Linked DNA regions of Homo sapiens. The protein of the gene in region 1 interacts with the protein of each later gene in a biochemical or structural test. Each region holds a gene or a part of one and is shown on either strand. Other genes may lie near its edges. The genes, in order: EPS8, ITGB5, ITGB7 and ITSN2.

Evidence for each region.
Region 2: the proteins of EPS8 (region 1) and ITGB5 form a complex in vitro, tested with the Homo sapiens proteins (one study listed by IntAct).
Region 3: the proteins of EPS8 (region 1) and ITGB7 form a complex in vitro, tested with the Homo sapiens proteins (one study listed by IntAct).
Region 4: the proteins of EPS8 (region 1) and ITSN2 form a complex in vitro, tested with the Homo sapiens proteins (one study listed by BioGRID).

What each region holds. Positions count from the first base shown.
Region 1 is NC_000012.12:15,619,614-15,625,409, forward strand, and holds the end of EPS8 (epidermal growth factor receptor kinase substrate 8), read right to left. Parts: intron 4,795-5,796; coding exon 4,614-4,794; intron 3,675-4,613; coding exon 3,545-3,674; intron 1,818-3,544; coding exon 1,704-1,817; 3' UTR 521-1,703; downstream 1-520. UniProt on the Homo sapiens protein: Signaling adapter that controls various cellular protrusions by regulating actin cytoskeleton dynamics and architecture. Depending on its association with other signal transducers, can regulate different processes.
Region 2 is NC_000003.12:124,761,410-124,765,368, reverse strand, and holds the end of ITGB5 (integrin beta-5 isoform a precursor), read left to right. Parts: intron 1-811; coding exon 812-978; intron 979-1,650; coding exon 1,651-1,746; 3' UTR 1,747-3,421; downstream 3,422-3,959.
Region 3 is NC_000012.12:53,204,211-53,211,103, reverse strand, and holds the start of ITGB7 (integrin beta-7 isoform a precursor), read left to right. Parts: upstream 1-3,852; 5' UTR 3,853-3,902; intron 3,903-4,299; exon of another isoform or gene 4,300-4,430; intron 4,431-6,893. UniProt on the Homo sapiens protein: Integrin ITGA4/ITGB7 (alpha-4/beta-7) (Peyer patches-specific homing receptor LPAM-1) is an adhesion molecule that mediates lymphocyte migration and homing to gut-associated lymphoid tissue (GALT).
Region 4 is NC_000002.12:24,294,504-24,301,544, reverse strand, and holds part of ITSN2 (intersectin-2), read left to right. Parts: intron 1-305; coding exon 306-391; intron 392-1,373; coding exon 1,374-1,636; intron 1,637-2,730; coding exon 2,731-2,880; intron 2,881-5,740; coding exon 5,741-5,881; intron 5,882-7,041.

The DNA.
Region 1 (5,796 bases):
TATTTTCTTTCATCTTATCCCTTTCAATAAAGGCTAAATTATACATATGTATCAGTCCTTATGAAATGTAAAAGATCTAAACTAATTCACCTTTATCATGCTCATGTTTGTTCCACTTTATCCAAAGGGCAGTGTTATAGAGAGACCGAGAGATAGAAGATGAGAAACTCCCACATCCTTCAGGATCTGGGGAAAATTAGCTTCTAGGAAGCTAAATCTCCTCATCTGTAATAATTCATATAGAGTTGTTGTAAATATCCAGGAAAGCATTTATATGGAAGCATTTAGCAATCGTAAGCGCAGTGTAAATTAGTTCCATTACCATTACCAAATATGACTAGATGGTAGAAGGAAAAGATGATGAAACAAGAGGCGAAAAGAAGAAAAACAACCGAAAAAAGTATTCTAGAGTTTCTCTACCCACTCAGAAATAGAATAATATATAGTTTTTTTAAAATGTGGATCTCTACTTTTTCCCATTGCATTCAACTCGAATCCTCAGCCGATCTAGCACAGATCCTTTTTGCTAATGAGACAGAAACCATTTATTAACAGACAGCAAATACTGTTTATTGCAGACTTTCCAGCTGACTCATGTGAAAAAGGCACTATGAAAATTAATGAATCTAGATAATTTCTCTAAATGATTTATGTTAAAATATACAACATTCTTACATAACATCTGTTTTATATATGTGAAATAATATAACATTTAATGACAAAAATTGTGTTTCCAAAAATAACATTTGTTGAAGGTTAGGTATCTTTCTTTTCTCTATGTGGAATCTTTCACAGGATTAAAATATGTGTAAATTAAGTGCTTCTTATTACCAGAAATACTTGACACAGATAAACACATAAAATGGCCCCACTTCCTTTTAACTACTCATATCAACATTCAGAACTGAGGCTTTCATTAAGCAAAATACTGTAATGCACACCAATGCAGACTACTTCCTTTGCTAGATTTTGAGAAGACATGACCTCTTTCGCATTTGTGCTTTCTCATATATAAGAACACAGTATACATAATAAGCAGAATATAAACTAAATCAAAATACAAGCTATACAAGGAGTTGCAATCAACAGAGCCATGACAAACTCTCTTGAGAATGCTCCATAGATTTATATTTGCATGTCCAAGGTATGGCTGTACTTTACAGTTCATTCAAATGTTTTAATTTTTTTTTAAACTGTTGGCATTAAGAACTTTAAATAAATCTAAATATTCTTCCATTGAGTATGTCAGAGAAGAGACTTAAGTAAGCAGAGGCTAGCCTACAGTGAGCTATGCCCTGAATGACAGACACCATATTCACAGGCAAAATCGAAACTGCTTAGATTTTGAATCATGGACAACATTGTTGCTTTGTTGCAGTGAATAACTCCACCACTATCAAAACAATTCCTGTTTATACCCTGGGATGGGGATAAAATAATTAGTCTAATTAAGGAAACTTCACCTTGGTAAAGTAAGAAAAATATTTTCCAAGGTCAAAAAATTCAGTTTAAATTTTTTCAGTTTTAATAAAAATAATGGGCCTAGAAGCAAATCCTGTGCTCACTCAGGTTTGCATGGGTTTTTTTTTATGGTGATAAATTACATCAAGAAAAATGAATCTGACATTCCCTTCAAGGCTTCTTAAAACAAAGCATGTTGGAATAATGCCAAAAACAATGGAGTTTAAATACAAACAAACAAATTAGTGACTGCTTCCTTCATCAAAAGATTCCACTCCTGAATCACTAGCGGCAGCACTGATTTTTTCCTGTCGTCTTCTCATAATTTCTTGTAACTCGGAGCTGCCACTGCTATCCTGAAAGATAAACAGTTCAGACAAGATAGTTACTGACTTGTGCAGGCTGCAGGTCATATCATGAAATGGCTCAGGATAAAATTCTACTGTGGTTTTCTTCTAGTATCTCTTTAGGAAAGCTAACAGCTCTACTTTTTAAGTGAAGCTTCTGCACTTCACTAATATATCACATTAATAATTTTTCATTTTGTAAAGTCTGTTAAGGCAATTCACTCACCAGGCCTTTCATTTGAACATGATAAAGATAAATCAATAATGTATGTATAGTACTCTAGGTTTGCTGAGAGAAAGAGGAAATGTGTACAATAAGCATAATAACATGGTAAATTATCAAAGGACTCTTTTGGGCTCAAACAAGATACTGATCTGCCTTTAGAAGATTTTAACTCAGGCCAGAGTGGGCTCAGAATTCACCCAGTTTCCCCTCCATATAGTTCTGACCCTCCGACCATGCTGGCTTTTCTCCTTTCCCATCAACAGAAGTCTCTGGCAACACAGGCAAATAATCTAAAAGATTAACTAGATCCAAGGAAAGGGTGAGGTGGTAGAAGGTGGCTGAGGAACATGAAGAACCTCAGGTAGTCAGCCTCTGCCTCAGTTCCCATGCAGAGAATAGGAAGAGAACAAGAAGCAAGAGACCATCCTGAAGTGGGTGGTGACAGCAAATGACAATAATGATAGGCAGGTGTGGGATGAAGGAATTCAGAATTTTAGGAATATGGCATTTTCTAACATACCTTGAAGAAGTAATTATATACTCTCAACAAAATTAAATATAGTGGTAATAAAACTGCTTGAGAAAAATATATAATCCTTATTAATATTCAACATATGGAAAGCAATCAAATCAAACTTTAATATGGAGCCTTCAAGATCAATGTTGTAGGGAAAACCTCCAAGGGAAATATGGTTTCTCTTGATTCAGAATGGCTACGGGGTGATACGCATGAAGTGATTTTACCCTGAATTATTTAACTGTTGAATTTATAGAATATACCTGCTAGAGATGATTATGGATCAATTTCATGCCAAAGCCTACATTCTTTCATTTGAGTCCAAGTATAATTTTCATGAAACTATTAAGAGCTGTGAGATGTAACAGTTGGAAACTACTACCCGTATATAGCACATTTTAAGTCTAAAATAGGATATTGGAAGCTTAAGTATAAAGCAATCTAGAAAACATGACTCTCCTGCTTTCATACAGACCATTGTGATTAAATACTTTTCCAGGCTCTCTATTTTCAGTGATCTCTACCTAATGTATCTTTCCCGATTATTGAGATGTATTACTAGACCTAACACACACAGCCAGGGTTTTACAATCTTATAACCTATACGTTATTAGAATCTCCAAAAAAAAAAAAATATTAAGAATAGGCAAGGATTCTGGCCTCTTAAGGCTCTTACTCACTCAGAAGCTAATTTCCATTGTTATGTCAAAATTAAATTTCCTATAGAATTAGTCAATACATATAAAATGAGAACATTATGCTTTTTGTCAAGTTTCCAAAAGTATGTGCTCAAGCTTCACATCATATGAGCATTTATAACAAATTAACCTTCTGGAAACTGTCATTGATGATCTCAGTGACAAATTTACAAAAGCAGAGTTAAATTTAATTCAGCTCTGTTAAGAAAGGGAAATTGGCCAATATGGACATAAATAGTTGTTTCCAGAGCTTTCAATTTGCAGAAAAACACCACCTTAGGTTGACAAGTCATACCTCCAATGCAGCTTTTTGTACAGTGATTTGGCTATAGACTCTCGCCCCTTCAGGGCAGACTGTCCTCAGTTCATCCTTATTGAGAGAGAAAAGTTGTGCACCATTTAATACTCCAAGACTATTGACAGTCCTAAAAAAAAAAAAAGGAAAAAGAAACTGAGCATTAAAAATATTGCCTACAAACAAAGGAGAAAATTATCTGTTCCTGCTAGTAACTTCTCTTTTCTAAGCGTTCCATACCCTGGAACCCTTATTAAATGCCACTACAGTCTTTATAGTTAGGGCAATGACAAGTTTCTTTCATGATGATGACCCTGAGGCTATACAGATTATTAATTACAAAGTATCAAAAATGAGCCAATTCGGTTTAGGGTCATTGTTTAATACCAATTCTTGGGATTTGGTGTTTTATAGAAGGAATAGATAACTTTCTAGTAACCTGGCAATTGACTAACCATTGTATCTCATTTTTCAATCATGCTGGGTAGGTGAGTTTATAATATGTCAAGGTCCCTTGAATATGTATTATTCTAATAGTTCATTGTGCCAAATACATATGAAATGTTTATAGACTTTTAGATAGATAAATAGAACCTTTACTATGGGTTTATTAAAGGAAAAGTTCTATTAAGATTATAATTGATGCTAGGTAACACTATTTTTTATTTGCCAGAGACACTATATCCTGCAGCAGGAGGAAAGCTTATGCTCTATGTCCTATGTGGTCTAGGAAGTTCAGCTAAGACCATGGTCCTACCTAGGTTACATCACAGTAATCTGATGGAGAAAAGAAGCTACTGGGCCTCAAAGCTGCCAATAGTTTGCTTAAAGAACTAATAATGAACAGATACTACCAATTCGAAAATGGGGTGGCATCAGAATAATTATTTATGCTTATTTTAGTTCTTTTTCAGCTATGAACAGCTATAGTGAGTTCTTGAGTATGGCACAAAGTATGCAGTCTGTGCCCTTATGTTTTATAACAGTTATCTGTGACATCTAACTAAGCAAATTGAAAACAATGCATGTTGTACACACAGAATTGCAAAGTATTCACAGAGAGACTCACACAGGGTTGAATCCCTTTGACTGTAACCACGTCTTCACATCCTCTGGTGTGGAGTCGTAAGTGATATTGATAACTGGCACGTTCTGCCGTGGCACATGGAATTTCTTCTGAGCGGCACTCCGACCAATGGTCAGTCTGTGGATGAGTTCATCTTGCACTTCCTCCATCTGAGATTTCCTTCCTAGACACCAACAGGGAGTAGGTTCTTTTTGAAAATCCCTAATATTACATCACCCTCTCTAGAACCCCAATCTCTATAATCCTTGACCCCAGTAGGACCTACAGTCTAGTGTTCCTACCATCTTTCCTCACTTTTATCCTCGCCTGGTATAAATGCCATGATCAATTATTAAAATAACTCCCTGGCTCTTCTCTAGTCTCTTCATTGTACTCCTTTGGCAAAACCCCAATCCTGGTTAAACCTAACTTTCTGCGTATTCTGTGCCTGCACCTGCACAGCTGAATATAACACAACAATGCTGAATGATCTCATGTTAAATTCATGATTATGAACCTTAACTTGGCTGTTAATGCTTCCTGACAATTATACTACATTTCCTTAGACTGGTGGCTCTCAACTGGGGACAGTTTTGGCCCCAGAGGACATTTGGGAATATCTGGAGACACTTTTGGTCGTCACAATTGAGGGAGAAAAAGGGGAAAGGCTGCTGCTGTCACACAGTGGGTAGAAGCCTGGGATGCACACAACATTCTATAATGTCAGCCTCTCCTACAGCAGAGAATAACCCAGCCTCAAAGGCCAAGAAGTCCTGCCTAAGGTCATGTAACTGCCCACTGTCTTAGACAAGTATTGAATATATTCTACTTTCTCTCTACAAACTTCTAACCCTATTCCCCAATCCTCACCTTGAGCTGATCTCATTTCCTAATTTATGAATAAAATAGTTAGAAGAAAACCTCCGTAAGTTCCTCTAGTAGTTCTTCCTAACAGCACTTTCCCCATATGTTCTGCCTGCCTTCCTATTATGTTATATAAGAGCTGTTTCCCTGCTCCCAAGGCTAACTATCCATGTATGCACTAGGCCTCAAGTTCTCTGCCTATTCAAATACTGAGTCATTTCTCCCTTATTTATCCTGTTATTAATTTTCCTTCTTCACTGAATCAGTTCATCAGCCTGCAAACATGCTATTATTTTATGATTTCTGTTACCTTTAAACAAGT
Region 2 (3,959 bases), on another chromosome or scaffold:
TCCTGCTGCTCCCATGCTCAGCTCCCAGCACCACTGAAGAGGTCAAGCTTTAATCCAAATACCAACATTCTGCCTCTGCTTGGACCCAGGGACCAATAGCCTTTGCCTTGGAGTAACTGGAATATCTGATATCACCCCTTACATTCTTCTTGGGGGTAGGGAGGCAGGGGTGGAGCAGAAAAAGATTTGCTCTCTTCAATCGACAGCACTGCAAACTATTTTTCCAAATTGAGCCCAACCACATAATGTGCCTTCCTGAGGCCAGAGGCAGAGAGAAGTGTGGTACCAGCCTAGGATGCACGCCTGTAAGAATGAGGCTTTGTTTCCAATGCTGTGTCTGAGGTTCTTTGAAAACAAGCACATTTACTCCAAGGGACACCACGCTAAAGGCTTACAAATGTTGGCCCCCAGCCCAGACCTTGTGGAAGTGGCTTCATGTGGCTTCATGGTACCTCCTGCCTGCCCAGTCTGCTCCTGAAACCATGTACACGAAAGCTGAGCGGGTCCAGCATCCTGCAATGGAGACTGGGCCAGGCGGGATGTGGGTGCTGCCCATGAGGGGAAAGGCAGCCCTGCCCCAGGGCCCTCATCTAGACTTTGCCACACTTGCTGTGTGACTTTAGAACAGTCACTGTCCCTTTTGAATCTTTCATTTTTTGTACATTGGGGAAACCCTCCTGAGGATCTAAGGGAGAGCCGAGGAGAAGGCCTTTGGAAGGGGTGCAACTTTCATCTCAGAAATGCCTGCAGTTGCGTGAGAGGGGCATGGTGATGCTAGTGGCTTTGCTTACCATGCTTCTGGTCCCCCCAGAGTGTGGAAACACCCCCAACGCCATGACCATCCTCCTGGCTGTGGTCGGTAGCATCCTCCTTGTTGGGCTTGCACTCCTGGCTATCTGGAAGCTGCTTGTCACCATCCACGACCGGAGGGAGTTTGCAAAGTTTCAGAGCGAGCGATCCAGGGCCCGCTATGAAATGGTAAGCACGTGGGAAATGGGAAGCAGAGGAGACTTCAAGCTCAGAGGCGTGGTTGAGTTCAGCGGTATGTTAGCAATAGAGGCTCACTAATGTCTTTGGCATTAAAAACAAAAGAATCAACACCAGAAACGCTGTGCCCAGTTCTGGAGAGAGAGAATTGCACAGCCCCAGTGCAGAGTGAGCTGCACAGATCCCTGTTCCAGACCCAGGTCAGGAAGGTCATGGGGGCAGAGGCGCTGGGCGTGCCTCAGGAAGAGTCTGACCAGTCTCAGAGAGAGCACAGACCAACAGGAAAGCTCAGATTCTTATGGTCCATTACAACACTCACACCTGCAGTCTGGTCACCCCAGGCAGACTGCAAATGCCCAGAGGACTGAGCGCAGTCAGTTTCTGCTGAACCTGGGCTTGGTTTCTGTTAAAGCTGGAAGGGACTTCAGAGACCTTCTGACCCAACTCCTCCTTCCAGAGGTGGATAGTGAAAGCTTAGAGAAGGCGATGGCTTTCCTGGGGAACACAGAGCTGTCCTAGAGCCCACGGCCGTCTCCTCCTGAGTGCTCTGCCTGCTGCTGTCGCAGGGGGCTGACCTGGGAAGGGATCCTAGGGCCTGCGTCTGTCGGTTTGAGTGTGTGAGCTAACATGTGTCCTCATCCTCTTCCCCGCCGTGTTCTGTAGGCTTCAAATCCATTATACAGAAAGCCTATCTCCACGCACACTGTGGACTTCACCTTCAACAAGTTCAACAAATCCTACAATGGCACTGTGGACTGATGTTTCCTTCTCCGAGGGGCTGGAGCGGGGATCTGATGAAAAGGTCAGACTGAAACGCCTTGCACGGCTGCTCGGCTTGATCACAGCTCCCTAGGTAGGCACCACAGAGAAGACCTTCTAGTGAGCCTGGGCCAGGAGCCCACAGTGCCTGTACAGGAAGGTGCCTGGCCATGTCACCTGGCTGCTAGGCCAGAGCCATGCCAGGCTGCGTCCCTCCGAGCTTGGGATAAAGCAAGGGGACCTTGGCGCTCTCAGCTTTCCCTGCCACATCCAGCTTGTTGTCCCAATGAAATACTGAGATGCTGGGCTGTCTCTCCCTTCCAGGAATGCTGGGCCCCCAGCCTGGCCAGACAAGAAGACTGTCAGGAAGGGTCGGAGTCTGTAAAACCAGCATACAGTTTGGCTTTTTTCACATTGATCATTTTTATATGAAATAAAAAGATCCTGCATTTATGGTGTAGTTCTGAGTCCTGAGACTTTTCTGCGTGATGGCTATGCCTTGCACACAGGTGTTGGTGATGGGGCTGTTGAGATGCCTGTTGAAGGTACATCGTTTGCAAATGTCAGTTTCCTCTCCTGTCCGTGTTTGTTTAGTACTTTTATAATGAAAAGAAACAAGATTGTTTGGGATTGGAAGTAAAGATTAAAACCAAAAGAATTTGTGTTTGTCTGATACTCTCTGTGTGTTTCTTTCTTTCTGAGCGGACTTAAAATGGTGCCCCCAGTGGGGATTGAAGCGGCCGTGTACTTCCTCAGGGATGGGACACAGGCTGGTCTGATACTCCAGACTGCAGCTTGTCAAGTAAGCATGAGGTGCTCGGGGCAGTGAGGGCTGTGCAAGGGGGAACACTGAGCAGATACCTTTGGCCCCTTCCAGCTTTTACTGACAGAGAGTTCCAGGCTAGACACCATAAAAACCACCCCTTGTTCTGAGGGGCTGAGGCTGGAAATAGATTGTACAGACAAGCAAGGGTTGAGTGGTGGTTCCCACACGAAGTCATCTCTTAATCATCATTAGCAATAGCAGTTCCCTTCCAAGGCCTCCCCTCACTCCCGAAACACTTACGTCCCATGCAGGCCCAATGCAAAAAAACACATTTGAGCTTTTTTCCCGCAGGGCCATGAAGTCCCCTTAAGTTCCCATATCTAAGATGGTTGACTGACCCTCTCCCCTTATGTACAGAAGAGGAAACTGATTCTCAGAGAGGGGAAGTGGCTTGCCCGAGTGTTTGTTAGGAGGTTACTGAATGACAAACTGTTCCTAAGACCCCATCTCATGCTGGCCAGAGGGCCAGCCTCCTCATTCCTGCTTGCTCTTAGAAAATCTTTCACTGATCATTTTTTGTCACTGGAATAACTTCAAGGTTATTATGCTTTCATTCCAAATGGATCTGTCCTCAGCTCTGGACCCAATTCCCCTTACTTCATTTTGGCAAACACTAAGTCAAATAGTGAAATGCCTGTCACTACATAGAACCTATTACCTGGGGCAAATACGAACAGATTGAGTTTCCTTCATCTTGTGTAAATATGATGAAACAGAGACCTGGTAACTTGGTGACACTGTTAAACCCTTTTTGGGATAAAGCCAAATGTAAATGAAAACATTAAACAGATAAATTGTGGTGTTGAGACTTTTCTGAATTGAGAAAAATAAATGTAATTTTGGAAGAAACTTTGGGTTTCTCTCATGTTTAATTTTGGGTTTCCTGGAGACAAATCATTAACTGGCTCAGAATCTCATTTTCTCTAAGGGCACGACATTCTTTTTTTTTTTTTTTAAGAGAGGATCTCACTGGGTCACTCAGGCTGGAGTGCAGAGGTGCAATCTCAGTTCTCTGCAGCCTCAATCTCCTGGTCTCCCGTGATCCTCCCAACTCAGCCTCCTAAGTAGCTGGGACTACAGGTGTGCACCATCACACCCAGATAATACTTTATTTTTTGCAGAGACAAGGTCTCACTATGTTGCCCAGGCTGGTTGGTCTACAACTCCCAAGCTCAAGCGATCCTCCCACCTTGGCCTCCCAAAGTGTTAGGATTACATACGTCAGCCACCGCGCCTGGCCTGGGCACAACATTCTTGAGCCACAGATAGCAAAGGAGGATTTGTTCTAGTTCCACTTGACGTGGAAAGTGAGGGTGTTTTCGTCTGACGCCGAGGGATGTTACGGAACCAGTGCTCACGGTGCCTTGCTGCCCCCTGCTGGAAGCTC
Region 3 (6,893 bases), about 38 Mb from region 1:
TGCAGGTCCATTCTGCACCTCTTGGCTCGGGTGCAGAGTTCACCCTGTGCCCTCCGTTATAAGTCCCTCCCCCAGCCCTGTCATGTGCCTTGGGCTCCTCCTGCCCTCCATCTCAGCCATTGGGGCAGGGACCCTCCTACACTACAGAGGGGCCAGGGGATCCCTCTCTCCCTAGTGCCTTCCACCCTTTACTCCCCAGAGCAGCTTGGCCCAGGGAGGGGGGATGCTGCTTAGCTGATCCCGCCCTGACCCAGAGGAAGCCTCTATTTATTTATTAGCTTTTGTTTACACCGTGGAATTGACCCCTTCCTCCAGGGGTCTTGGGTGGGGGAGCCCAGGGCCCCTGTGACCCCTCCTTTCTTCCTCCAATCCCCAGTTTGTATTTAGCTGCCAAATAAGATTCCCATTGGCTCCCTGTGTTCTCTTGGGGGGTCAGGGTGCTGTCCCCTCCCCTCTGTTTACATCTCCCCTCTACCCCGCTGTATCGCATATTGCTGAGTTTTCTATTTTTGCAAAATAAAGTGATGGAAACTCATGAGATGTGGCTCCCTTTAGGAGGTGGTAGGGAAATGACCAGCTGACCTGGTGAGGGAGCTGAGTGAGGAGGGAAAGCTTGTAATTGATTGGACTTTGCAGCTTTCTTGGTAGAAGAAAACAGGATGAAGTGTGCCTGGATTGTGGTGGGGACAGGATGGGGGAAAGGGAGCCCATGGGGACTCACCCTGAGTGACCGGGTTTCCCACAACCACCAGGTGTGGGTTCAGAATCTCACTCTGTCGCCCATGCTGGAGTGCAGTGGTGTGATCTCGGCTTACTGTAACCTCCACTTCCCAGGTTCAAGCAATTCTCTTGCCTCAGCCTCCCGAGTAGCTGCAATTACAGGGGTGCACCACCACGCCCAGCTAATTTTTTTTATTTTTAGTAGAGACAGGTTTCGCCATGTTGGCCAGGCTGGTCTCGAACTCCTGACCTCAGGTGATCCGCCTGCCTTGGACTCCCAAAGTGCTGGGATTACAGGCGTGAGCCACTGCGTCTAGCTTGGTGTGGGTTCTTATGTTGGATCCTGTGGATCTCTGGGAGGGCATGAATGGACTTCAGAGGTCTGTAAGCCTGTCTCCACCTCCAGTTATGCATATGTGCATATCTGCTTTTCTCTGGGGAAGGAGTCCATTGAAGTTTTATTTATCTTTTTGTTTTTCATTTTTTTTCTTGAGACGGAATTTCACTCCTGTTGCCCAGTCTGGAGTGCAGTGGTGTGATCTTGGCTCACTGCAACTTCTGCCTCCCGGGTTCAAGCGATTCTCCTGCCTCAGCCTCCCAAGTAGCTGGGATTACAGGGGCGCACCACCATGCTCAGCTAATTTTTGTATTTTTAGTAGAGATGGGGTTTCACCATGTTGGCTAGGCTGGTCTCGAACTCCTGACCTCAAGTGATCCACCTACTTCAGCCTCCCAAAGTGTTGAGATTACAGGCGTGAGCCACCATGCCTGCCCTGAAGTTTCATTTAGTTCTCATGAGGGCTCCTGGCCCCAGAAGAGAAGAAGCCCGCATCTAAGCTACAGTGTTACTGTTTTACACCAGCCCCTCACCCAGGGAGCCCTCTGGCCTTCTGTCCCCAACCACCCTGCTATCACCTTATACCTTACTCCCCCCACCCTCTCTGTTCCCACTCTTCACCCCATGACCTCCACTCACTGCCACCTGCACTGTTACCTTCTTTCCGAATATCTGTCCTTGCTCCCACACGCCTTCCCTCTGCAACACGCCTTTGCAGTGCCTTTGGCCTCTACTGCTGCACCCTGTACTCTTCCCTTCGCCCTCTGTGACTCCCCTCAAGCCCCTCCTCCGTGTCCTACCTTCCCTGGGACAGTGCCTTGCCTACCTTGTTCCTGGCTCTCTTCATTGGTGACCTGTGGTTATGACAAAAAAGTTGAGGATGTGGGAGTAGGGGAGAGAAGAGTGGAGGGCGGAAAGCAGAAGAAGAAAGTGAAAGAAGCTCTAGAGGAAACCACAGGGCCTGTGGGGAAGGAGGGTCATTGCCGTGGTAACCCCTGGTTGTGGGGGAAGGGTATAGGTCCTGGCTATCCCATAGCCTGAGGCCAGCCAAGCCCACCCAGAGAAAGAGCCCCTCCTCTCCAATTGTCCCCTCCTAGCAGCTACACCTCTGCAATCCATCTGACATTTATTGAGCACCTACTATAAGATGGGCACTTGGCTAGGTGTGGTGGCTCCAGCAGGGAAGCCTTGTAGAGCCAGTCCCTGCCTACAAGGAGTGCTCCTTCTGGTAGGGGAGATCGACCTGTGAACACAGACCTCATGTCTAGTTCCCTCTCAAAGCTCTTAGTGATCTGTATGGGCCAGGAGCAAATCCCATTAATATTTTCCTGCTCTCCCTACGGGCTTCATCCTTGCCTTGGCTTCAGCTGTTGTTCCTGCACTCTCTGCTTCTCCCAGTTCACCTCCTCCACCCCTTTCCCAGGATCCACTACTGTGTTGGCTCCTGGTTCCCCAATCACATGCTCTGAGCCTGGCCCTATGCCTCTCTCTTCCAAGTTTCCAGTTGTGTGGACCTTGAATTTCTCAAAGCCTCTTCACTTCTCACCTCTGCTACTTCTCATCCCTACTAATTCTCTTATCAAGCCCTTACTTAGTATGTGCCAGGTAGTCTTGTAGGCAATTGATATGAATTATCTCTTTTAATTCTCACGACAATCCTGTGAGTCTTGCTGGACAGATGAGAAAACAGCTGCAGGCAGGTTTAAGTAACTCAGCTAAGCTCCTTACTACTAGTAAGTAGTAGAGCCAGGATTTGAACTCTAGCAACTTGGCTCCAGAGCCTATGTAGTCAAGCACACTTATATAATGTATCCTGGGTTTTCAAAATGAACAAGTCTGTAATTTCTGGCCTCTCTACAGTACTTACTGCCCCTATTCCCTCCTATCATGTTCCTTCCTATATAAGTAAATGGAGAGATCATGAATTTTGGAGGCAGGCAGACCTGGATTTAAATCCCAGACCAGCCGAGTGTGCCTGTAATCCCAGCTACTCAGGAGGCCAAAGTGGGAGGATTGCTTGAGTCCAGGAGTTACAGACCAGCCTGGGCAACACAGCAAGACCCTGTCTCAAAAATAAAAAACAGGCTGGGCATGGTGGCCCACACCTGTAATCCCAGCACTTTGGGAGGCCGAGGTGGGCAGATCAATTGAGGTCAAGAGTTTGAGACCAGCCTGGCCAACATGGTGAAACCCCGTCTCTATTAAGAATATAAAACGTTGCTGGGCATGGTAGTGCACCCCTGTAATCCCAGCTATTCGGGAGGCTGAGGCAGGAGAATCGCTTGAACCTGGGAGGCGGAGTTTGCAGTGAGCTGAGATTGTGCCATGGGACAGTGAGCTGAGATTGTGCCTGGGAAACAGAGCAAGACCCTGTCTCAAAAGTTAAATTAAATTAAAATAAAAAAAATAAAATAATAAAAATTTAAAATAAAAATCTTTTTTCTTTTTTTTTTTTAAATCCTAGACTAGCTACTTACTAGCTGTGGGACCTTGGGCAAAATTCTTTATTTCCTGCTTCCAAGCCTCAATCTCTGCATCTGTAAAATTGGGGCTTGGGGGAATATTAACCCCTATCTTATGAGATTGTTGTGAGGGTTAATTGTAATATGTTACGTTCAACACATGACAGGGGTTCAATAAATGGGCTTCTTTCTTCCAGATCTCTGTATTGTCCACTCCCTTGGCTCAGCCCCACCCCTATCTGCACCACCTTCTAGATCAGTCACCCCCACCAACCCCAAATCTTCCCCACCCTGGGGAGTGTCACTTCCTCCTCTGCCGTCTCCCAGATCAGTACACAAAGGCTGCTGCTGCCGCCAGAGGAAGGACTGCTCTGCACGCACCTGTGAGTACCAGGGCACCAGCCCTTCTGCCTCCTCTCCTTACAAGCTCTGGCCCACCTGGTCCCAACCTCTTGGGAAGAGGGCTCTGACCTGGATACCGAGGGTCCTGTCCAGACTTGAGAAAGGCTCTGAACTCCTTTCTGCATTCCTAAGATCCCCTGACCTGGTTCCCTCCTCCAGTTTCACAGTACCCCCACCTCCACCTCTCCAAAAGCCCAATCTCTCCTGCATCAGTTTCCCATGAGTGGGTCTGGAGGCAGGGATGTATATGAGTGCTGTCATCTGAGTGCCTGCCATGTGCCAAGGACTATACCGAAGTAGGGCAGGTATACCGATTATACTGAGGGAGGGTTCTTCCAACATCACCCCCAGCTGCTATCCCTAATGCTCTGCCTTCAGCTCAGACTTCTTCCTAATCGGCACCTTGGTCACAGACTCCACTGTCCTGGGACACTGAGGCCCAGCAGCTCAGTTCCGTCCCCTCCTTGTGACTCCCAGTGGGCAGCAGAGGGTTCTGCTTGATTTGGAAGGTAGGGATGGGTTTGGAAGAGGCTCTGTTTCTCAGCTGCTGAGGGGGGTCACAGGGTGTGTACTGGAGTCAGAATGGAGTCCAGAAAAATGGAAATAACCACTTGGTCCCAGAGAGAGAAGGGAAGACTGCAGAATACCCCTAAGGAAAGAGAAATGGGATTAGGCAGAGCCCACCAGGGCTAGTGGGGAGAGAACACAACTTTTGATGGAGATAGTGCCTGGGTTGGAGGGAGGAAAGGAGAAAGCACAGCAGAGGCCTGGCCCTGCCCTGTCCTGCCCTGCCCCTAGTTCACTGGGTGACCCTGGCCTCATGGAATTTAGGTTTCCATTTGTAAAAAGAGTGGGATGGAGTAGTAGATTCAGCCATTCTATAGTTAGGAACAGAGGGGAAAAGGAAGTAAAATAGCCCTATGAAGAAGTGGAGCAGAGAAAAGCAGCAGAGAGATGCAATAGAAGTTTTGAAATGAAAGGAGCCAGAGAGAGACAGAGAAGCAGACAGAGAAATAGGTGGCAGAACATGTATTCTCAAGGAGGGGAGAAGAGAGGATAATTGGAAAGAAAGGTAGGAAAGGGCTGTCCAGGAAGTCCCAGGGCCCCCTTTAAGGGGAGATGAGTGGGCCTAAGGTCTCTGAAAAACCTATGCGGCAGCCGGGGCTCCACTTGTGAGAGATGAGTCAAAACCCGGCTTTGGGTTGCAGCATCTCCAGCCTCCCTGACCACAGGCATGCAGAGCAAGCAGGGCTGAGGTTACGCTGAGGCTGAGCTGGGACTGGCCTCTCCCCGAGGGGTGGAGGCTCCGTTATATATGGCGCCTGAGGTCACAGGTGGTGGGGAGCAGGACCAGGACATTCAAGGACTCAACACCCCACCCCTTTCCCACACTCTGTGCAGAGTATCTGGACCTGACTCTGGGCCCAGGCTGAAGAAGATGCAAATGGTTTATGACAAGGAGTTAGTTGGCCTTTCTCATACATTGCTGATGGGAATGTGGACCAGTACAAGTCCTGAAGAGTTTATGTTGGCAATACCCACCTATATATATATATTTCTTAGCATGAGAATGTAGATGAAATACACACCAGTATTACAAATGATACCTATCTAGTTATCCTGCACGTCCTCTGCTAGGGATTTATCCTACAGATTCAGTTGCAGACGTGTGAAATGATAAATACATGACATTTGGCTGGGGGTGATGGCTCACGCCTGTAATCACGGCAATTTGGGAGGCCGAGGCAGGTGGGTCGCTTGAGCTCAGGAGTTCTAGACCAGCCTGGGCAACATGGGGAAGCCCCATCTCTGCAAAATAATACAAAAATAATTAGCCAGACATGGTAGCATGCGCCTGTAGTACCAGCTACTCGGGAGGCTGAGGTGGAAGGATCAATTGAGCCGGCAAGGTCAAGGCAGCAGTGAGCCATGATTGCACCAGTACACTACAGCCGGGTGACAGAGCAAGACCCTATCTCTCAAATGAATAAATAAATAAATACATACATTACTTTTCATTTCAGCATTATTTGTCATAGGGAACTAGAAACAATTTAAGGCCAGGCACAGTGGCTCATGCCTGTAATTCCAGCACTTTGGGAGGCCGAGGTGGGTGGATCACTTGAAGTCAGGGGTTCGAGACCAGCCTGGCCAACATAGTGAAACTCTGTCTCTACTAAAAACACAAAAATTAGCTGGGTGTGGTGGCTCACACCTGTAATCCCAGCTACTCAGGAGGATGAGGCACACGACTCACTTGAACCCAGGAGGCAGAGGTTGTACATCACGCCACTGCATTCCAGCCTGGTCGACAGAGTGGGACTCTGCCAAAAAAAAAAAAAAAAAAAAGGTAAAGAAAAAAGAAACAAAGATAGTAGTAAATGATATTTATTTAGGGTAGGTGTGGGAACTGGGTATGGCATATGGAGTAGGAGATTTCTCACCATCTTATTTAACTTTTTGATTTTTAAAATGGTAAGATACACAAACATTTATCATTTTTACCCCTTTTAAGTGTACAATTCAGTGGCATTAAGTACATTCACTAATTCCAGAACTTATTCATCACCCTAAAATGAAACTGCCCATTAAGCAGTCATTCCCCACTTCCCCTTCTCCCAAGCTCTGGTAACCACTAATCTACCTTCTGTCTCTGTGGATTTTTCTAGTTTGGATATGTTCCATATGTGGAATCATACAATATGTGACCTTTCATGAATGGTTTTGTTCACTGAGCATGTTTTCAAGGTTCATCCATGTTGTAGCATGTATGTATCAGTACTTCATTTTTTTTTTTTTTTTGAGACCGAGTTTTGCTCTTGTTGCCCAGGCTGGAATGAAATGGCACAATCTCGGCTCACTGCAACCTCCGCCTCCTGGGTTCAAGCGATTTTCCTGCCTCAGCCTCCCAAGTAGCTAGGGTTACAGGAGACCACCACCATGCCTGGATAATTTTTGTATTTTTAGTAGAT
Region 4 (7,041 bases), on another chromosome or scaffold:
CAAAAAAAAAAAAAAAAAGAAGTGGATGTGTTTTCATTATGTTATACATAAGGAGGCTAATGACTAAAGAGATAAAGAAAAACTTGCCCAAGAACCAAAATTAGCTGAACTGTGATTTGAATCCAGATTTCTCTGTCTTGAATATCCATATACTACTGTATTTTGTAACGACATACCAAACTGTTTTAAATATCTTTAATACTGTATTCCCAATATCAAATTGCCATAATCACTGGTAGTCTGTGTAATCTAGTCTGAAAATGTCCAGACTACATGATGCTAACTTTGTTGTTTGATTTTTTTAGAGGAGGAAAGCAAATTGATTCCATTAATGGAACTCTGCCTTCATATCAGAAAATGCAAGAAGAGGAGCCTCAGAAGAAATTACCAGGTATCACTGAGTGTCAAAGTTGTATATTTATACTGAGTTCTTTTAAATTCTACCTTTAAATGTAATGGAATATTTAGAATTTTTATATTTTTAATATTTGATGTGCTATATGAGAAAAAACTATTTGATAGATGGGATGTATTTTGGTATTGATAAAATTAAGATGGTCAAAATGAGAAGAGTGTGAAGGAAGAAGAGACAGTTAGATGTATTTGACAGGATTATAGACATCTGAGTTAAAGTATTTCTCCTAATTTAGGCTGAGTTATTAGAGGAAACTTTGTAATGAAATCTTTACCTTTAAAAACATTTAAATATTGGTTGAAAGAATACATTTGTAGCTGTTTTAATATATTAGGATGTTAATGACATCAAAACAAATGTATAACCACACAGCTTTGATTGTCCTTGAAGAAGAGAAAAAAGTTGAAAAAGTTTTTTTTTTTTTTCCTTGTTGCCCAGGCTGGAGTGCAACAGCACAATCCCGGCTCACTGCAACTTCCGCCTCCTGGGTTCAAGCGATTCTCCTGTCTCAGCCTCCTGAGTAGCTGGGATTACAGGTGCCTGCCACTATGCCTGGCTAATTTTTGGTATTTTTAGTAGAGATGGGGTTTCACCGTGTTGGCCAGGCCGGTCTTGAACTGCTGACCTCAGGTGATCCGCCCACCTTGGCCTCCCAAAGTGTTGGGATTACAGGCATGAGCCACCACACCCAACCGAAAAAGTATTTTTATTGGCAAGTTTATAAAAATTATTTCTCTCTTGATTGGATTCAAACTTAAAAATTTGTTTTTCTAAAATTGAATATCCTTGAAGAAAGTAGATATTTTTCCACTTAGATTTGAGTTAAAATTATCCTTAGGAGAAGTATTCAAATACTGATAGCACTCAAATGATCACAAGGCATAAGTATATAGAAACTAGATTACAGGTTCTGTAGGCTGTTAATGTGTGTGGATGCTGATAGGCATACCTTGTTCAGTTACTTTTGAGGACAAACGGAAAGCCAACTATGAGCGAGGGAACATGGAGCTGGAAAAGCGACGCCAAGCCTTGATGGAGCAGCAACAAAGGGAGGCAGAACGTAAAGCCCAGAAAGAAAAGGAAGAGTGGGAACGAAAACAGAGAGAATTACAAGAACAAGAATGGAAGAAACAACTTGAATTAGAAAAACGCTTAGAGAAGCAACGGGAATTGGAGAGACAACGAGAGGAAGAAAGGAGAAAAGACATAGAAAGACGAGAGGTTATTTTTAAGTTTTTTACTTCTTAAGAAAATCATTACATTTAATAAGTGACTATATTTCATTTGATTAAAAAATGCTTATTTTTGAATTTTTGTTTTGCCTTTTGCTCTGCATCATTTCATTCTTACCCTATACAAATCTGATCATTCCTTCCCTTGAGGAGGGAAAGAGGCTTCTTGCTTATAAGGAGTTTTCAGAACTGGTACGTGGTAGAGAAAGCATCCTCTGCAGGTGATATCTCAATCAAAGGAGGATCGACTGCAGAGCTAAGTTGAGTGAGGAGCTAAGGTTAGTTAGGCAACTGAGCAAGTCATTAGACGAAAGCAAGTTTAAGATCCAGATTAAGAGTCCAAGGAATTGGAGAGACAGAAAGATGAGAGCTGGGCATTGAAAGTCTCTCTAGAGAGGAATCAAGAGGATGGGCTTGCACAGGCCTTTGGGATAGTGTTGCTGGGAAAGAAGGGTCCTTAGGAGGACTGGCTGTGTTTTAAAGGGCCAGGGATGGAGCACAGGAAGTTATTGCACACTGAAATAATATAAATAGAATTTTTCCCCCAGATACCAGAATAGAGGGAAAATTATTCCTGTTAACATTTATATTTATGAAGTCATTCTGTAACTTATTAAGAGAAAAATGACTGTAACAAAAGGATGGTCTTCCAACCTGGGCAACATGGTGAAACCCTCTCTCTACAAAAAGTACAAAAATTAGCCAGGTGTGTGGTGGTGTGTGCCTGTAATCCCAGCTACTTGGTGGGGCTGAGGCAGGAGAATCGCTTGAGCCCAGGTGGTGGAGGTTGCAGTGAGCCAAGGTGGTGCCACTGCACTCCAGCCTGGGTGACAGAGCAAGATGCTGTCTGGAAAAAAAAAAAAAAAAAAAAGATCTCGTGAAGAAATGAGAAAATATGATAGATGAAGCCACTTTCTTGGAAGTCTTTAAGCCCATTAATAAAACTAGATTTGCCTAGCTACCCTTAGGCACTAAAGCCACTAAGTGCTAAACTCTGCCTGACTTTTATTGTTGTCTTCCCAGTTTTTGAATCGTGCAAAATTTTTGATTTAAAAATTAAGTATAATTCCTTTTTTTTTTCAGGCAGCAAAACAGGAACTTGAACGACAACGTCGCTTAGAATGGGAGAGAATTCGGCGACAGGAGCTTCTCAATCAAAAGAATAGAGAACAAGAAGAAATTGTCAGGTTAAACTCTAAAAAGAAGAATCTTCATCTTGAGTTGGAAGCACTGGTATGGCTGAAGTTTAAGTGAAATTTATCTGAATGATGATGGAGCTACCTGTTGAAAAATGTAATTGTGGGCCAGGCGTGGTGGCTCACACCTGTTATCCTAGCACTTTGGGAGGCCAAGGCAGGCAGATCAACTGGGGCAGGAGTTTGAAACCAGCCTGGCCAACATGGTGAAACCCCATCTCTACTAAAAAAAAAAATTAGCCAGCTGTGGGCTGGGCATGGTGGCTCACTGTAATCCCAACGCTTTGGGAGGCTGAGGTGGGTGGATCACGAGGTCAGGAGTTCAAGACCAGCCTGGCCAATATAGTGAAACCCCATCTCTACTAAAAATACAAAAATTAGCCAGGAGTGGTGGTGTGCGCCTGTAGTCCCAGCTACTTGGGACACTGAGGCAGAAGAATTGCTTGAACCTGGGAGGCGGAGGTTGCAGTGAGCTGAGATCGCGCCACTGCACTCGAGCCTGGGCAACAGAGTGAGACTCCGTCTCAAACAAACAAACAAAAATTAGCTGGCCGTGGTGGGTGGTGGTGGGTGCCTGTAATCCTAGCTACTTGGGAGGCTGAGGCAGGAGAATCACTTGAACCCAGGAGGTGGAGGTTGCAGTGAGCCAAGATCGCACCACTGCACTCCAGCCTAGGTAACAGAGTGAGACGCCATCTCAAAAAAAAAAAAAAGAAAAATGTAATTGTGTTTTAAAATCTCTCGTGAATTAGTTATGTCTTAATGTCATTAGTCACATTTTCATATAAACAGACTGTACAATATGGTTTACTGAGAAAAGGATAATGACTCAAAATGCTGAGAATTATGTTGTAGCATCAGTTCAGACACTGATGAACCATGTACTCCTGGGCAAGACATTTCCCTTCTCTGTGCCTCACTTTTCCCTTGTCTGAAATAAAGAGTTGTGTTAGTTGAGTGATTTTCAGTTTTCAGATTGGTCTCTGTAAGATGGTCTGAGGAGGACTAAGCAGAGGCAGGAGAGGGGAAGCTCGGGCAGCAGAACAGTGATTTTCTCTCCCTAATTCTTCCCACGCTTCACAACAGAGAAGCTTGACATTTATGTGCTTTATGTTTCTTGGGGTTTCACTCAAGATTTGCTTGGAAAAAAAAAGATTCTACTATTAAAAAGACAACTGATTTGAAACTGCTGACCTAAATGATCTCTTACAGTTCCAGTTCTGCAGGATTGTAGTTCTTAGCTAATACTGGCCACTAAGCAGTTTTTACCAATCAGATGTTAGAGGGTCAAGTTGTTAAAAGACTTTGTTTGAAATGTGTGGTGAGAAGGTATAAAAGATCTGGCACTATTCTGCCACAACCCTAGAATCCCATGAGCCTACCCTGATCATATAGTAGGGTTTTACAAAAATGCATACCTAGTCATGTAGTAGAGCCAGATTTAGATCTTGTGTGATCATAGTCTAACATTTTATTTGGTTGATGACTTGAATTACATTAAAAATTATTTTTTTAATCATCACAATATCTTTAGTCAGAAATATATTATTTTATTCCTTCAAATGGATAGACATACATACCACAAGTATTAATCATGCCAGAGTACTACAAAACAGTTGTAAAAAACTTTTAACTCTCTTGCACTATTTTTATATATATATATCATCTTGACTATATATAATGGGAAGAGACCTTAAGATTGATTGTTTTTCCCTCAAGAACTGGTGCAACACATGAAGCACAGTAACACAGGTGAATGTGCAGAGTCTGGAAAGGTCCAGAGCCTATACGTATCCCATGTTGAGGATAAGAATGTGAGCTCCAGCAGAGATACACATGTTCCTTTCAGTGTATGTATTTCAAATATGAAACAGTCTTCAGTAAAACTTTTCATCATCAGTAAGTTTTAACCCAGGATGTCATTTCCCCTCACTCCACTGTATTAGTTTGGTAGGGCTGCTGTAACAAAATACGATAGGCTAGGTGGCTTAAACAACAGAAATTAATTTTTTCACAGCTCCTAAGATCTAAGACCAAGGTTAGTTAGGCTTAGTTTCTTGTGAGGCCTCTTTTGGTGGCTTGCAGGTGGCCATCTTTCATTGTGTCCTTATATGGTGTTTTCTCTGAGTGTATTTTATCTCTGGTGCCTTTTGTGTTCAGATTTCCACCTCTAATAAGGACACCAGTTAGATTGGATTAGGGTCCACCTGTATGACTTTGTTTAACCTTAATCACCTCTTTAAAGGCCCTGTCTCCAAATATTGTCACATTCTGAGGTACTGGGGCTTGGGACTTTAACATATGAATTTTGGGGGACACAGTTCAGCCCATAACCCCCCATGTCACCCTTCTTCTTAGGTCCCATTGAGAATCTCTGCTATTTGTTTGATTTCTTCACAGAAGAAGAGGAAAAAAGGAGAAGAATATTAGTATAGAACAGAACTGTTGCCAAAACGTTCCTCCTGGGCACTGTTTTAATTAGAGGAAATTAGATGGCCATATTTAGGGTAGAAATAGAAGTTCAGAGAAGGTAATGCCGAGCATCACATGCAAACATTTATTCCTCTTCATCATTCTTTGAGAGTGTCTCTGATATTAATATTGTTAATTAATATTGTCTAATGCTGAATTCAGAAAAAAATTCAATGTGTTATGTTTCTGCTTTCCCATACTAACATATGGGCTCTTGCACTCTGAGAATGATGTGTTTCCCACTAATAACTCGAGTTAACAGACACAACTCTGAAACACATTCCACTTGGTTTTAGGCATTTGTTTCAGGATGAATATGAATGATAACTGAGATTTTAAAATTTAACTAAAAATATTATTCTCCTTGTAGAAACATTTTCTATTAGCATTTTATGTTACTATATATTTATATGATCTTCCTATAGAATGGCAAACATCAGCAGATCTCAGGCAGACTTCAGGATGTCCGACTCAAAAAGCAAACTCAAAAGACTGAGCTGGAAGTTCTGGATAAGCAGTGTGACTTGGAAATTATGGAAATCAAGCAACTTCAACAGGAACTTCAGGTAAGTCCTTCACTGCTAAATTGTTCTTAAACATGTACAATTAATAGTTCTTCTGGGCTGGGCACGGTGGCTCACGGCTGTAATGCTAGCACTTTGGGAGGCTGAGGCGGGTGGATCCCCTGAGGTCAGGAGTTCGAGACCAGCCCAGTCAGCAGGGCAAAACCCCGTCTCTACTAAAAATACAAAAAAATTAGCTGGGTATGGTGGCGCATGCCTGTAATCCCAGCAACTCGGGAGGCTGAGGCAGGAGAATCGCTTGATTCCGGGAGGCAGAGGTTGCAGTGAACCCAGATCGCACCACTGTACTCCAGCATGGATGATAGAGCGAGATTCCATCTCAAAACAAAACAAAACGAAACAGTTCTTCTAATAGAGTTTTGTTTTGGGGGTCAATAACCTTGAGTCTTTGATAGGCTTGTGATCTAAATACACGCAATCCTGTATACAATATCAGGAAGTCCATAGACCTACTAAAACTCTGCTAGACGTCTGGTTAAGTTTTGCTTAATATATATACGTAAGTGGACATTTATCACTTTGAGTTTTAACTCTTTAACAATGTTTATGCATTCTTAATTCATTACTTGCTATAACAAACGACCTTAGACTGGGTAATTTATAAACAACAGAAATTTATTACTCATAGTTCTAGAGACTGAGAAGTCCAAGATCAAGGTGTTAGCAGATTCAGTGTCCGATGAGGGCTTGCTGTCTCCTTTAAAACTAGTGCCTTCTTGCTGCGTCTTCACATGCAGAAAGGGTAAGGCAGTCCCTTCAACTTCCTTTATAAGGACAGTCATCTCATTCATGAGTGTGGAGCCTCCTAAAGCCCTACTTCTTAATAGTACTGCATTGGGAGTTAGGTTCCAACATATGAATGTTGGGGACATACCAACATTCAGACCATATCATACATTAAAATAAGGTTATTGCTACTAATTTTAGGAAATTTTGACTTAAAGTTATTCTTTTTAAAATTATGATGAGAACTTGAATATGTCCCTTGGGGTCCTGGTAATTCTCTTCCTTACTTGTGCAGTAGGGTCTGGTTCAATAATTACTATTTGCAGAATGGGGCTGTGGAAGCATTCTGCATCTCTAGAGTTCTCTTACCCAATTTCTCTTACTGCATGGACTGGCAATTAATCAGTCTTTTTGCT